Linked DNA regions of Homo sapiens: region 2 is linked to region 1. The links come from fine-mapping of genetic effects on gene expression. A gene starts in region 1. The other region holds a variant in brackets. All regions are shown on one strand. Distances are between the middles of the regions.

The links. PIP is the estimated chance that this variant, and not a neighbour inherited with it, causes the effect.
Region 2: its variant is fine-mapped to the expression of NALF2 in breast (GTEx, PIP 0.96).

What each region holds. Positions count from the first base shown.
Region 1 is chrX:69,500,929-69,509,399 of GRCh38, forward strand. NALF2 (NALCN channel auxiliary factor 2) reads left to right here and starts at 3,398. Exons shown (of 3, transcript NM_015686.3): 1 at 3,398-5,215. The coding sequence starts at 4,355. RefSeq lists a silencer at 4,351-4,524 and an enhancer at 5,456-5,955.
Region 2 is chrX:70,225,046-70,233,516 of GRCh38, forward strand. No RefSeq gene overlaps it. Among named protein-coding and RNA genes, the nearest start is that of AWAT1, 5.4 kb to the right of the region's middle. The variant C/T (reference allele first, on the strand shown) is at 4,435.

The DNA of each region.
Region 1 (8,471 bases):
CCCCATGACCTTTTAAGATCTGAGCTTAACAGAAAGCTCCTGATGCAACCACACTGGTCACTTTAAACAGCTCCCACTTTGTCTTCTTCCTAATTGTCAGCATTTCACTGCAAGAAACCTTCCCCTTCTCCCTCTCCCTCAAGTTGTCTTCCCCTCTGCCTGGTTTGAGGGCACTCTATTGCTCTTCTTGTTCAGTCTGGGCCCCCTCAGGAGTGACCCGCCTCCATCCCCTGGCTTTAGCCTCCACTAACCCGGGAGCAGGTGGAAAGAAAGGGCTGAGAAGAAGGACTGGCCAGGGCCCACCAGCTCTGGGGGAACAGCGGGCCACTCCAGTTCCCCTCCCCACCTTGGCTATTCTGCTCCAGGGGCCGATTAAGGCCAATGCCTTCCCTTCCCCCATCCCAATTTCTTGGGTCATCTGAAGTTAGAGAATGAGAGCCTCTTCTGACTGTTGGTTTGCTAGCACTTCTTCTTTGTGTGCAGCGGGAACTGTCTGGGTAAGTTATTGTTATATTGTGCTCCTGTGATAAATGGACCTTTGTGAGACACTTTTCACCCTGTGTGTGCTTGGGGAGAGGGAGGGAGTCTTGCCTGAGTGACTTCTCACAGAAAGCTCCAGAGGTGCTCAGAGCTGATAGCCTAGACCTGGCAGGCTGCTCTTTCATTGGCAGTCAAGGGTGTCAATCACTGTGGCCCTGCCAATCAGCTCCGAACTAGGTATCTGTAAGCGATTAGCTTTCTTTGTTAGAACACTGAACCCTCCAAGGACTAAACAAAGAATGGCTCAGGAAAGACAGTTCCTAGGTGGGCAGGGGCAGTCGTGCCAGTGTCACTAACTGGAACTCTTTGGTTTCATCCTCTTTCTAGCCCTGCCTCCTAGCTCCTTTCAATTCTACTTCTTTCATTTCCCTCCCATGTGCATTTATTTTCTCTGTCTCCACTGCTGCTGCCTTTGTTCAGCCCTCCACACCTCTCACCTGACTACTAACCAGTCTCCCAACTAGTTTCCCTGCCTGCCGTCTCACTCCCTCCAATCCAGTCTCCATGCTGCAGTCAAATCAATCTTCTAAAAATACAAGTCTGATCGTGTCACCTCCTGCTGAAAACCTTTCGGCCTGTTCCATGGCTCCTAGTGCCCTTGGGATAAAGTCCAAACTACTTAGCATGGCACCCAGGGCCCTTCATGATTTGGCTCCTGCCAAATCCTCAGCCTCATTTTGGCAGTGCTCCCACTTCACACCTAGTCATGATGAACTACTTTGCAGGTTTCTGAACGTACCATTCCTGGCGTTACTTCTGGTCCTTTACACATAACATTCCCACTGCCTGGGACATCCTTCACACACCGCCTTCTTTGCTACCTGTCCAGCCGGTCCTTACTCATCCCTTAAGGTTTCAACTAAACTCCTTCAGCTCAAGACACATATTTTACTCATGTCTATATTGCTGATGCCTAATACAGCATCTAGAATGTAATAGATCCTCAATAGATGTTTGACAAAGGAATGAATCAATGAATGAATGACTCAACTCCAGCGGCTGTGTGCAGAATCATCTCTGAGGGAATCTGGCAAAGTTGACTGGTCCCTCCCTCTATGGGAGGGACACCTACCATCCTTATTGCACTAGGTTGCAATTTCTTCTTTAACATGTCTGCCTCTCTAATTCAACTGTGAGCACCTCAAGGGCAGGGCCGTCTGATTCACCGCAGTATCCTACTTAGCCCCTAGCACAGTGCTTGTAACATAATGAATAAATAGGCCTCCCAAATGCCTGACAGTTTTGTCCCTTGTCTCATTTCCTGCTACTCCCTTCCCCACAAATTCTCACCATCAATATAGCCAAACTGCCACACTCGTGGCTTCACAAACATACAAAGCTGCTCCCTACCCCTGAAACTTTTCATCTGCATTCCTTTTATTTGGAATGCCCTTCTCAACCACCCACCCTAATCCTGCTACTTTAGAAACTAGCTCCATTTGTCCCTCTTCCAGAAACCTTTTATGTACCCACCCCAGTCCACCTCTGAGTAGTGCTAACGATGCCCACCCATTTCATTTGATCCTTGGCATCCCTTCGTGTTACTCAGGGGAAAACCAAGACTCAGAAAAGGAAAAGACTCTCAAGGGTACACAGCATATCAGCAGTTGAGTTATTTATCCAAGGCTCTAGTTCATGAATCCTCCCACTAGCCAATATACATGTCTTGTTTCCTTATATAGACTATAATTTCCTTTAAGGAAGGAATGCCTTGGCTCTTTCATCTTTCCAGGGCCTTACTGGAGTGTTAAGAGAATTCTAGAGTCAGACTGAGTTTCTTTTTTAGCTGCTCTGGTTACTTTAGGCAACAACCACACTAAACCTCAGCTTCTTTGTATGTAAATGAAGATAACAGTAGTACCTATCTCATAACACTGTTGTGAAGATTGGATGACGAATGCATGCAAAATGTATAGAGCAGTACCTAGCACATAGTACGCGCTCAATTAAGGCTATTTTCTTTATTGTTATTCTTAACATTAACAAATGCTTGCCGGCAACGGTTGACAAAAAATTACAATGTGAGTTACTGGGAGTGAGGAAGGCAAGCAGACCACAGGGTCAGTGGAGTCCAAACAAGGTTAGTGGCGCGTCAGGATGTTTGTACGTCCGAATTCCTAGTGCCATGTGACTCTGTGAGGGCCCAAGCACATGGTTCCATCCGGGCGGCGCAGCTTCTCTAACTCTCAGTCAGCTATTCTCAGCAGCCTGTAGGGGGAGCCAAAAAGCTAGGACGGGGGCTGGTGCTTGGGTGGGGGGCGGGCGGGTGGGGGGTGGAGGCTGCTGGAAATATTCCTAAGGGCAAACACCGACACCCCACCACTACTATCTTAGCCCACCGCCTTGCCCCCTCCAGGACGCTCTCCAAACTCAGTCTTCCTCAGCAGCTAAGCTGGGAGCTGTCCTTCAGCACCAAGGGCCGCCTTGTCCTCGGGCAGGACGGTGAGGGCGAAGGTGGAGTTAGGGACACTGGACTGGTCCGATCCGCAGCCGGCTCGAGCGTCTTCCAGTCACGGGGACGGCGGAGGCGACCCAGAGAGGCAGCAAGCAGCTACGAGATGCCTGCTGCTCCTTGCCTCCAAGAATCACCCTCAGAAGTCCCCTAGCCCTCGGGGGAGTGAGGGACGGCCATGGAGAGGAAGGCGGGCGCCCGGGTTAGTGGGGGAGGGGGAGCGCCGAGGCCTGGGACTCAGCGTGTGGCATGTGCACGCGGGCAGCGGGCGGATGAACGGAGGCGCTGAAGTGAATGGAGTTGGGGGTGGACTGGAAACATCCCCAAACAGCACCGGCTGCGGCCGGCGGGGGCTGGGGCGGGGTGGGGTGGGGGGAGTCCTGAGGCGCAGGCGCAGTCGGGGCACCAGTCCCGCTCCCTCCTCCTCTCCGTGCCTCTTTCTCCGCCCTGCTCCCCGCCAAACACACTTGCACAGGGGCTCTCAAGGTGTTCTCCGCACAGCGGAAGATGGCGACAGACTGAGGGTGCATGGCCAGCGGGAGCCACGGGGCCGTGCCGCTGGGCTGCAGCCACAGCGGTGCGAACGAGAGGCGGAAGCGAGAGGCGCACTAAGTAAAGCCCGGTGTCTGCGTCCGGCGCCTGTGGCGCTGCCGGGAGCCAGGTGGCCCGCCCGAGCCGGAACTCCAGGAGCAGCGGGTGCGGAGCCAGAGCGGAGCCCGCCAGGGACTGGCCCCGGCGAACACCCGGAGCGCGAACGAAGCCCGAAGGGCCCGGCAACGGACCGGCCGGCCGGCCTAGGAGGGCGCGAGCGAGGCAGGGAGCGGCGTGGAGCGGGCAGCGGGCGGACGGGCGGGAGCGGAGCGGCGCGGGGCGAGGGGAGCGGAGCGGAGCGCGGCGGCGGGGCCCGCACGGCGGCGCTGAGGGGCGCAGAGCTGCGCCGAACCGAGACGGCCGGTTTGGAGTGCGAGCCGGGCGGCCGCCGGCGCGGAGTGAAGTGGCACGGAGCCGAGGGCAGCTGAGGGGCCCGACACTATGAGGAGTGCGGCGCCGCCGCCGCAGCCGCCACCGCCCCAGTGCCCCGCACCGCCCCCAGCCGGGACGCCGGGCAGCGCCTAGCGGGCCGGGCGGCGGCGCCCGGGCTGAGAGCGACGGAGCGCGGGAGCGGCGCGGAGACGGCACCAGAGCGCCCCGCGACTCCGGCCTGAGCGGGGCATCGCGCCGGCCGGCCTGCCTCACCATGCAGCCCCCGAGGTAGAGCCTGGACGGCGCCGAGGAGCGCAGAGCGGCGCGCAGCCCGCCCGCCCCAGACGGCCGTCTGGCCTCGCGCCTGCCTGTTCCCTCCAGCCCGGACCCCCCTGAAATATGTTCAGGGGCGCTTGGATGTGGCCCGGGAAAGACGCCGCCGCGCTGACTATCTGCTGCTGCTGCTGCTGCTGGGCTCCCAGGCCGAGCGACAAACCTTGCGCCGACTCCGAGCGGGCGCAGCGATGGCGACTGTCCCTGGCGTCCCTGCTCTTCTTCACCGTGCTGCTCGCTGACCATCTGTGGCTGTGCGCGGGGGCCCGGCCCCGGGCCAGGGAGCTGAGCAGCGCCATGCGGCCCCCATGGGGGGCCGGCCGGGAGCGGCAGCCGGTGCCTCCTCGCGCGGTGCTGCCGCTGCCGCCGCCGCCGCCCGGCGAGCCCAGCGCGCCCCCAGGCACCTGCGGCCCCAGATACAGCAACCTGACCAAAGCCGCCCCCGCCGCCGGCTCTCGGCCGGTCTGCGGCGGCGTCCCAGAGCCCACGGGGCTGGACGCAGCTTGCACCAAATTGCAATCTTTGCAGAGACTTTTCGAACCGACTACTCCGGCCCCCCCTCTGCGGCCCCCTGACTCCCTTTCCCGTGCCCCGGCCGAGTTCCCCTCCGCCAAAAAAAACTTGCTCAAAGGCCACTTTCGGAACTTCACTCTCTCCTTTTGCGACACCTACACGGTCTGGGACTTGCTGCTGGGCATGGACCGCCCCGACAGCCTGGACTGTAGCCTGGACACCCTGATGGGGGACCTGCTGGCCGTGGTGGCCAGCCCGGGCTCCGGGGCCTGGGAGGCGTGTAGCAACTGTATCGAGGCGTACCAGCGGCTGGACCGACACGCTCAGGAAAAATATGACGAGTTCGACCTCGTGCTGCATAAATACTTACAGGCGGAAGAGTACTCAATCCGGTCCTGCACGAAAGGCTGTAAGGTAAGGACTGGCTTCCGCAGCCACAGCAGCCGCCCTGGGCAGCGGCAGCGGCCGCAGTGGGACCGGGAGAAAAAAGGAAGTCTCCCTTTCTACCCACCCCACCACTCCCACCGTGCCCAGTGCAGCACTACCAGTGCCACCCTGGGACCTTCCCTAGTGAAGAGGCCTCAGGGATTCAGGTCAGGTAACCACCTGGCTAACTTCTATTAATTCCGGGTTTGGGCACCTTAGGCCTGGGGCTTCCTGGCGCCCTGCTCCCTCATGAGTGGGGAGGGGCCGCAGGGCCCTGGGCTGACAATGAGGTGGCAGGAGGGATTGTGCTCCCCCCAGCCTCCATCCTCAGCCAGCCATGCCCCTCTCCTTTCAGAGGCTGGAACTGAACGTCCTGGGACTGGCTGGTGCAGGGGGAAGGCCAAAGATGGGAGGAAGAATATTTGGCAACCAAACCCTCACCCTTTGGCTTCTGCCAGTGGGTGAGAGGACGAGCACTCCTGGTGGTGGGGCACACCACACACTTGACCTTATGTGACCTGAGGTGACTGGCCAGAGCCGAGGCAGGTCGAGCCCAGGGGCTGCCTGTCTTCTCCCAAGGAAGTCACCTGCAGGCTCTTCTCCCCTGACAAAGGAAGGAGCTGGGAACAGGGAACAGCGACTGGTGGGAAGGCCACTGAAGGTTAGTGCATTCTCATACAAAACTCCCAGTGCCTTCCCAGCACCCCATGGTGACAGTGGGGGGAACACTGGCTTTCTAGCTGCTGGGGATAGGTATCCAGAGGAGAGGTGAGGCAGCTGCAGACCGGCCCGCCTAGGGAAGAGCTGAGTGTTAAGAAACTTCTTGACCCTCGGCGGGGTTGCTCTGGACAGTTAGGTGGGTGAGGGCTGCAAACATTTGGGACTTGATGGTACTGCCCTGCTCGCCCAGCCTGGCCAGGTGACCTGCCTTTGGGAGGAAAGAGAACAGCAAGGTCAAAGGGTCAGATGACAAGGAGACCAGGAGGGGTGGTGGCCTCACACATCCTCGAGCTGGGGCCAAGAGCTGGAGAGTGAGACAGTTGCTTTCTAGCCTAGCTCGTGTCCCTCCAAGACTTTGGGGAGGGGCAGAAAGTGCCATTTTCCATCCAGCATGGCCCTTGTGGACTTCTGCAGGGCTTCCATGCTTTTAGCGGGTTCCCTAGGGATTGGGGCAGAGGGTTGGGAAGGAAAAGGGTAGTTCCTCGCTCCTGACTTCACTTTCTCCTTCTCCTTTTTCCTGCTCTCGTAACCTAGCAGTCTCCCTCCCGCCTCCCTCAGCCTCAGCTGACTCACTGCCTCACTCACACTACCAAATGAGATATTCCACTTCTTAAAGGTATACAGACAGATAGACACACACACTGCCATACACCATCACCACCACCCCGGGCAAAGTCACATAGGCATGCAGAGAGGTCGTCACACCCACAAACAGTGTCATTAGAAGCAGATGCCGTGTCACACACACGCACATCTCCCCATGGTATCAGAGACACGCAGGCAGAAGTACTGTCACATGAAGAAGGGCACATTTTGTCTTACAGAGACACATACCCTCGATGTCAGCCACGGACACATACACTCAGTGGGAGCAGAGAGACAGGGTCCACAAGCAGATGGAATCAAGGATGTCTGTTTTTTGTGGCCCTCCCTTCAACCCCATGGCCCTGTTTTTTGTTTGTTTGTTTTGTTTTTTTCCTCAATCACCAGTATGAATGAGAGGCATGCCACAACTTCCCCATGGGGTTTTCTCCGTGTTGTAGTTGACTCCGATTTCTGTCTGGACCTGAACTAAATACAAATCTCTCATGTTGATTGTTTTTACCAAGCAGTGTGACGTAGGAGAAATACATCTGATCTCTCCAGTTCAGGAGGCCTTATCACCTCTACTTCTTGTTAGTGGTATGACCTTGGGCAAGTCACTTCACTTCTGTAAGCTTTCATTTCCTCATTTGTAAAACAGGGATCATCATCCTTGCTCTGCCCACATCCTGGGTCTTTTGTGGGAAGAAGGTGCAGATGTATTTTGTAATAAGAATATAACATCTGACATTAATGTAATGCTTAAGGTTTTTCCGCCCCTCTCGTGTGTGTTATGAGATCAAGGAGGCTGGTGATACTAGCACCACTACTCCCATTTTACAGATGAGGAAACTCAGGTGCAAGGGGATCAAATGGTTTGCCCTAAGGTCACTCAGCTAATGAGCAGGAGTGCCAGGACTCCAGCCCACGTGTTTTGGTGCCAACCTCGTGCTTTTGCCATGGCCTCACATCAAGTTCCTGATGGCCCTCCCTCCTCTCCTTTGTCTTCTTGTCTGTCTCTCTCCAGCAAACCAGCGAACTCCTCCTGTGCTCTCGCTGCCTGCTGTGCCGGCAGAAGGGCAGTGCCAGCTCCATAGCTCTCTTCCGGCCTTTCCCACCCTTGTCCAATGCTCTCTCCCTCAACTGAGGCCAGACCCACCTGGCTCTCGAATCCAGCTGTATGATGGGCACGAAGGGAAAAGACAGCCCTGCTACCCTACTTGGACTGTAGGCTCCTCTCTCCTCAGTCCCTCACCCCACCTCCCTGGCAGGCCTTACTTGCCATTCCCAAACCCCGTTCCTGGGCTCCAAGCCCTCCTGTCTGGTCCCCACCCCAAATGGGATCCCTGCGAGATGACGCCCCACCCTCAGAGCTTCTCCTGAGTGGAGAGACCACAGCCCCAGGCCAAGATGAAGAGGCTTTCTTACTTCTAGAAACCAAGCTGGGAACCTCTGTTTCAGAGCCAGGTGACCCCCTGTCCCCAGGACCCTGTACTGAGTGCATCAGTTAGCTCTTCCCTGGGTGGCCCCAGAAACCCTGTTCTCTGCCTTTGCAATATCTGCCCCCGTTTCAGGCCACACAGGGCCCCACGAATCATACCTGTCCTCGCTGCTGCCTGTGACACCTCCCAATTTAGTACCAGCTGCAACATTTCCTTAATGTGCAACTGACTTCCTCTCACACAGCAGGGCAATGTAACTTAGGTAGGCCGATGCCCTTCCCCGCCCTGGCCTCTCCCAACTCCCAGGGTCATGCCTCACCTCTCTCTTAGCTTCCTGTGCATCCCCACAAGCCCTATTTCCTCCAACCCCCACCCCACTCTCTTGGCCATAGCTAGGGTTACTGGACAACCACCACACTCCCCCATGGCTCTCCATCCTCCCAGTTCTGCCACACTCCTGCCTTTCTGATTGCCTCTTCCCCCACCTCTGTCTCTTTCCT
Region 2 (8,471 bases), 720 kb after region 1:
AAAAGTGAAAAGACAATCTACCAACTAGGAAAAGGAGAATTCATTCAACAAATATTATTGAGCACCTACTATGTGCCAGGCATTGTCAACAGCCCTTCAGATACATCAGTGAACAGATCAAAGCATATTGTTTAGACTTAGGGAGATAATCACCAGAATTAATACCAAAATGAGTTAAAATTATTTTCCCTTAGGAAGTGGAGACAGGGTTAGATAACTGTTCCTTTTCATCATAAACCCTCTGTACTATTTTATTTTTTATCACTTGAATTTATTACTTTGTTAGAAATTTAAAAGAGAAAACATTGTAACAAAATAAAAGTTACTTTATAAATTTTCTTTAAATCCCTACTCTCAGAGGAGCATTTTATTTAAAACTATGCCTTTGTTCTCACTTATAAGTGGGAGCCATATGATGAGAACGCATGGACACAAACAGATACTGGGGCCTACTTGTGGGTGGAAGAAGGGAGGAGGGAGAGGATCAGAAAAAATAACGAATGGGTGCTAGGTTTAGTACCTGGGTGATGAAATAATCTGTACAACGAACCCCTGTGACATGAGTTTACCTATAAAACAAACCTGCACATGTACTCCGGAGCCTAAAATAAAAGCTTTTTTTAAAATAGCTATGTCTTGATTACCAGGCACCATTCTAAGTACTTTACACATATTAAATCAATTAATCATCATCATAACTTATGAATTAGGTACTCCACAGATGAGAACAAAGAAGCTCAAAGGGGTTAAGGAAACTGAGGCACAGAGAGGTTAAATTGTGCGAGATCTTTTACAGTTAGTAAAAAGTGGAGCTGGGATTTGAATCCACGTAGTCTGGCTCTGGAGGCTATGTCCTCCATACCCCACCACACATTGGTATGTTGACAGTTCCAGCACCTAACTGACAAAGGATTAATATGTGGAATATATCAAGAGCTCCTGCAAATCAATAAGAGGAAAACAACCAATAGAAAAATCAATAACAACATAGACAAGAATTTTCCAGAAGAAATATTGCTCATAAACATATGAACTGATACACCCAAACTCATTAGTAATTAAGGAAATGCACATTAAAACCACAGCAATGTAGCATCTCACACTAAACTGATTGGCAAAAATTTTAAAGTTAGTTAAAGCCAAGTGTTAGAGAAGATATGGAGCAATGTGAACTCTCACACTCTGGCAAAGGCATATACTGATACAATCACTTTGGAAAACAATCTAGTATGCTCTAGTACAATTGAATACACACAGACCATATGACCCAGCAGTTCCACTCTTAGTTATAGATCCTAGAGAAACTTTTGCACATGAGCACCAGAAGACATAAAATAGAATGTTCTAGAAGCAATGTACATAATAGCAAAAACCAATATAAATGTCCATCAATAAGAACATGGATGAATGAACTGTGGTACATCCATATTCATACAATGGAATACAAAAAGCAGAGCTGCGTATGTCAACAAAGATGAGTATCAAAATCATAGTGTTGAGTGAAAACAATCAAGTAACAGAAGAATACTGTGTGTGTGTGTGTGTGTGTGTGTGTGTGTGTGTGTGTAATGTTTCTATGTCAAAAGCAGACAAACCTAAATGTTTTATTGTTTAAGGAGACATACATATGTGATGGAACTGTAAATAAAATCAAGGGAATAATAGACAAACACATCAGTTACTCATGGTAGGGGAGGGCACGGGGGAATGAGAACAGGGACAGGCACACAGGGGCCTTAGAAACTACTGGTAGCATCTATTTCTTAAGTCAGATGCATATATGTATGTATGTGTGTCTTGTTTTTCTGAACCATTTCAAATTTAAAAACAACCATAACCGTGCTGTCCACATAAAACATGTATACATGTATACATGTACATATGCATATATGTACAGAGAGATAAATATGCACAATATTAATTGTTGAATTTGAGAGGTAGATGATATACAGTTGTTTATTATACTATTCTTTCAACCTTCCTGTATGTTTGAAGTTTTTTCTAAAAATAGTTGGAGAAACTAAATTTGAAGGCCTTTAGAAGGAACACGCCCTCTCTGGGTCAACATACTCCCCACCATTCCTTGTTACAACTCTCAGCCTGGTTCCCTCATCTCTATATCTCTGATCCCTAGAGACATTTGAGTTTGCAACCTCTGGCTCAGCTTGTAGGTCTTGACTCCTTCTAGGTCTCCCTGCCTCCTCTATGTAACAGGTCACAGCTTTGGGGCATAAAAGATGTTTTTCTCATTCCCAGAGGTTGAATAAACCATACACTAAGTTTAGTTTAGTTTTGAGAACATATTAAGGACAATAAAAGTTTATGTAATTCCCCACTACCCTGCAGTGAAGGGTATCCCTCTCTGCCCGCAGCCCCAGCAGCTACAGTAACTTTGGCAAGCATGCCATCTCTTAGAAGATAAAGACGAAGCCTTGGAAACATCAAGCCACACCAGCTACTTCTCCCAGAAGATAAGATGAAAAATTTTATGATTCTTTTTTTTTTTTTCAGATGGCGTTTCGCTCTTGTTGCCCAGGCTGGAGTGCAATGGCGTGATCTCAGCTCACTGCAACCTCCGCCTCCGGGTTCAAGTGATTCTCCTGCCTCAGCCTCCCGAGTAGCTGGAATTACAGGCGCCCACCACCATGTCCAGCTAATTTTTTGTATTTTTAGTAGAGATGGGGTTTCACCATGTTGGCCAGGCTGGTCTTGAACTCCTGACCTCAAGTAATCCACCTGCCTCGGCCTCCCAAAGTGCTAAGATTACAGGTGCGAGCCACCACGCCCAGCCCAGTTTTATGATCTTGATGTCCCTTGTAGTCTCTCTGACACCAAAGGTGAAAAGAGTGGGAAACTAAGATCTTCCAGAAACATCGAGGGGCCAATGGGGTTAACTACTTATGAAGGATATAATGTATGAGATGAATGGCTGTTACCCAGTGGGCACAGGCAGCCATTCCTGGACTTGAGAATGAATGAGAAAGAGTCCCTGGTGGGTGCCTAGGCCCCGGAGAGTTTGCAGCCAATAAACCATTGCCCTTCAGACTGATGGGTTCTCAGTCCCTCACAGTTCAGTCATGTTGGAGAAACGGAAGCAGCTTGCCAGATAGCATTTGCCTAGCCACATTCTGTGATATGAGAGATTCTTTGCACACCATGGTTTTCACTCCTGCAGCTATCACACTGCATTAAATCCTCGATCTTTGCTGCCCCTACCTTGGCTAGTTATACACACACACACACACACACACACACACACACACACACACACCCTACAGCATGAATTCATCCAATTGTTTTGCACAAAAACATGTTTAAAATGAAAAGGCAGAAAGCCAGAGGCAGGTAGGGTAACTTGGGTATAAGCTGAGGTTAGCCAGTGACACTGCATGACAGCTTGGCCCAGCATGTCAAAGCAGGTGTGACAATGGCAAGACTCCTGTCTGATTGTTCTAATCATCCAGACAGAGAGACCAAGATCACTTGCCCTTTTGATATCCACTAACCTTTGACCTAGGACTAGGCCTGGGTGGTTTCCACTGGCTTTGCCGCTTTTTGGAGTGGCCTTCCCTCTTGGTTTATTTTTGCCTTGACCTCCCTACTTGCTGACCTTCCAGATCTTAGAACATCAAGTTGTGTCTTGATACCTAGATCCTCATATGACCAAACATTGGCTTAGGAGAATGTTGACACCTCTTCATCCTCCGTGACCTATTTTAGCTATTTGCTGCCCACATCCTATTATGACAGAACTCACTTGAGAGTTTGAATCTGCTCTGATGAATGCTTACAGGCCAGGGACTGAAGATAAGGGAAAGAAGAATTCTATTACCAAAGCTGTAGCATCAAGAAGATACCTTCAGCTCTCAGAGAAGAAAGCGAAGACCAAGGCCAGATAACTAGCGGCTAACTTGTGATCCAGGGGCAAGACAGTACTTTACATGTGTAGTGCTCGAGAGGGAAATTCCAACTGGAAAAACCTGGATCAATAAAGGTAGGTAGGTAGGTAGGTAGATAGATAGATAGATACACAGATACATAGATACATAGATACATGGATACATAGATAGAAAAGAAGGACATTCATAAAACAATGAAAGTATGTCATTCGCCAAGGATTACGATTACTACAATTTCTTGATGTCACATTAAGAAAACAAAAACAAAAGGAAAGGATCATGTCCTTACTAACAACCAGTTCTCCACATTCCCAGGTTTTCTTTTAGCTATTACTTTTTTAAAAATATGTCATTCAGGAAGGGTGGCCAGGACCACCCAGATACCAAGAAAATCCCTGGATGCCCCAGACATTCTGGCCTAGGAAATTGTAAAACACTAATCATTAGTTCAGGTGAGCTGACTGAATTTTTCTCAAAAGGAAAACAAAACAATAGAAAAGCCTAGAAGCCAAGACACTGATGAAACAACAGATTT[C/T]TTACCTAGTTTGTCCTGGGTACAGGCTGACCTCAGTGATGGGACTTACAAGTCCCATTTTTCCAGGCTTCACCTCAGCCCTGGACTTAGCTTGCATTTATTTAAACATTTCCTCAATTTAACTGAGGTGAATCCAAACAACAGCCCTGCCAGGTCTAGTAGGATACTGTGGGCCTTCATGAAACCTGCTGTCTTGGACAATTTTGTGTTGCCATAACAGAATACTACAGACTGGGTAATTCACAAAGAAAATAAATTTATTTCTTCTAGTTCTGGGGTCTGAGATGTCCAAACTTAAGGGGCCTGCGTCTGGTGAGGGTCTTCTTACTGAGTCATTCCATGGTAGAAGGCAGAAGAGCAAGAGCGAGAGCAAGAAAGCGCCAAACTCGCTTTTATAATGAATCCCCTCTTGTGATAAAGAACCTACTCCCATGATAACTAGCCCCTTCCTGTGATAATGACATTAATTATCCCTTAAAGGCCCACCTCTTAACAGCATTGTATTTGGAATTAAGTTTCTAACACATGAACTTTGGGGGACACATTCAGACCATAGCTATGCTTCCTGAGTTGTTTGGAGAAGAAAATCAAGCCCTTTGTTCAGACATGGTCATCTCCTTGGAGAGAGAGGCTGATTCTGCTAACCTGGCTACCTGGTCCCTGGAACCTACCCAGGTTGATGGAAGCTTAAGAATGCATTTCACAGGCCGGGCGTGGTGGCTCATGCCTGTAATCCCAGCACTTTGGGAGGCCAAGACGGGTGGATCAGTTGAGGTCAGGAGTTCAAGACCAGCCTAGCCAACATGGTGCAACCCCGTCTCTACTAAAAATACAAAAATTAGCCAGGTGTGGCGGCACACACCTGTGATCCCAGCTACTCAGGAGGCTGAGTCAGGAGAATCACTTGAACCCAGGAGGCAGAGGTTGCAGTGAGCCGAGATCATGCCATTGCACTCCAGCCTGGGGCACAAGAGCGAGACTCTGTCTCAAAAAAAAAAAAAGAAAAAAGAATGCATTTCACTTTCTGTACCACTAACTCCTAGGAAGTGCTGGGGGAGAGGACACAGCATTGCCATTGAGAAGGCTCCAAGTATAGGAGGGTTTCTGATCAGTGACATTTCACCTACCATTAAAAGAGCTAAAGATCTGACCAGAGTGTGAAAGAGACATGTCTAAAAATAAGTGCTTCCTCCATAATAGGAGATTGGTTAAATGAATTATAGCATATCCATACAATGAAATGCTATGTATAATGTTACAGAAGAAGATTGACATGAAAAATGTCCACGATATACTTTTGGGTGAAAAAGCAGGTTACAAAATGGGACATAGAATATAATCCCATTTTGGTTAATATATATAGTAACTAACATGTATCGAGCTTTTAATATGATCATATATATGAGCAAGGCACTGATCAAAATGCTTCACATGAATTATTCTAACTTCTTGACAACTCTGTGATGTGGGTATTATAAGTATCTTTTTACTTATGAGGAAACGGAGGCACTAAGAGATTAAATCATCTGCCATAGTTCACTTAAGTGGCAGAGCTGAGACATAGACTTAGATATGTTGGACTCAAGAGCCCGAACTCTTAACAGGGACTCTATACCTATGCTTATATTTGTATAGACAAAAAGTCAAGAAAGATAGATACCAGGATGTTAACAGTTAACAGTGGTCATTTCTGGGTAGTGAGATTATGAATGACTTTTGTTCCCTTTATACTTTTCTGAGTGCTCTGAAAATTTTATGATTTACATGGATTATTTTCATAATCAGAAAAAAAAGGAAATAAATTTCCGTTTTGGAAAAAAGCAAGAAAGCCATTGTTTCCAACCTGGAGGTGCAAACCTCTGAGGAGTGGAGGAGTAACTTAATTATTACAAGGACTCCAGAAACCTCTACCTGACCCGAGCATTGTTTAGAATGAATAAATAATATGCTTACAGCACACTTTTCTTTCAAATGCATATAAATACTGTCATGATGTATATACATAGTGGCTTTAGTTTGTTACGTATTATCATGTGGAGATCCATGGCATTGTAAACGTTAAAGTACTAAGGCAATGGTTGGGATCTAGTGCTAAAAAGAAAAATATATATACAGGTCAACTCTCTTAGCTTGAAGGTCTTCTCAACAACTTACTTACTTTTTTTTCCAAGGGAGGCAGGAGGAAATAGAGGAGAAAAACTGAGAATTCACATATTATTAAAAGTTAACCCAGGAGGCTTGCTTCCTGGAGAAGACAATTTACAAGGATGAGAGAGTATGAAGAGGGAGTTGGTGTAGGCCCAGGATATTCTATTCTGGAAAGACAGAGTGCTAATCTCCCCCATATTATCAGGGGCGAGTTTCCAACCTCAACCACAGGATGTCAACACATCGATAGGGCAGTGGTGCCGTAAGACCTGAGTGCTAACATTTGCTCTAGAGCCAGGCTGGTTTCCAGTAAACAGGAAGACCTGGAGTGGGAGGGCAAAGTAGGCAGAACTTTTTCTTTTGCCAAAGTGCCTCAAAGGTGAGCGTCTGCCTTCCTTTCTCTCATTCTTTCTTCTCCCCTTTTGTAATGTGTTCCTTGTCTTGTTTCTGTATGGCCTCTCATCCCCCACTCAAGTCCCCGGGACATATGCCCCCATAGGACTCTAGTGATCTCATTACCCGTAAGAAATCATCCAATCATAGACCCCAAACTAAGATCCTCACTTACTGATCCTTCTCTTAACGCCGAGGCCCTAGGGCTTTCAGGCATTAGGAGCAGATATACTGACAAATAAGATATGGTCCCAATCTCTTTAGAAGCATGTAAACTTCAGGTGGAAAAAGCAAAAAACAAAACCAAAAACCACACACACACAACCACGTTTGCTTTAATGGGCATAAAGTTACAACAAGAGTTCAAGAGAGAAATGAGGGCTTTGCTTCCCCCCTCCCACGTTGGCCTGTATTTGAGACTCACCTAGGAATCACACTCCACACCCCAACCCTGCTCACAGAAGCTTGGAAGACTGGCTTACTCCAAAGAAAAACAGTCTTCACTAAGTCAGTGGCATGGGAAAAAAAGGAGGGGAGGAAGGGAGATTGTTCTATATTAAAAGAAAATTAAGATCTTGACAAAGGGATCAAATCTGAATCACTATAGTCTTTGAATCCAGCTATCAATCTGCAAGAAATACAGAGGAACATGCTGAAGCACCCTAAGTAAGTATGAGATAAGCAAAATCCAAACTGTGGGAAATTCTACAGGTCAAATGCTGTGGGTTCTTCAATAGCTAAAGCATAAGGAAAGGAAAGGGATGGAGGGGGAACCGACTTAAACTCTTCAAAAGCACCAAAGTCATGGAAGTCACGGAAAGACCGAGAAACTAACCCAATCTGAGTATGTGGTTAAAAAATAATAATAAAATAAAATAAAAACAGAGACACTGTCAAAGGAGGAGGAGACAAAGGAGAGATGATGATTAAATGCAATGTGAGATTCCAATGGGATCCTGGGACAGAAAATGGACATTTGTGGAAAAAAATTGATACAATACAAATAAAACCTGGTGTTTAGTAAATATAAATGCACCAATATTGGTTTCTTAGTTGTGATAAATATACCATTGTTTTATAAGATGTTAACATAAAGGGGAAGCTACACGAAGGGTGTAGGGAACTCTCTGTACTATCTTTGCAACTCTCTCATAAATCTAAAAGTATTCCAAATTAAAAAGTAAAAATGGCCAGGTATGATGGCTCATGCTTGTAATCCCAGCACTTTGGGATGCTGAGGTGGGAGGATTTCTTGAGCTCATGAGTTCAAGACCAGCCTGGGCAACATGGTGACACCCCATCTCTACAAAAAATAAAAAATTAGCCAGGCGTGATGGTGCGCACCTGTGGTCCCAACTACTCAGGAGGCTGAGGCTGGAGGATCACTTAAGCCTGGGAGATTGAGGCTGCAGTGAGCTGTGTTTGCGCCACTACACTCCAGCCTGGGTGGCAGAGTAAGATCCTGCCTCAAAAAAGAAAAAAAACCATAAAAAAGA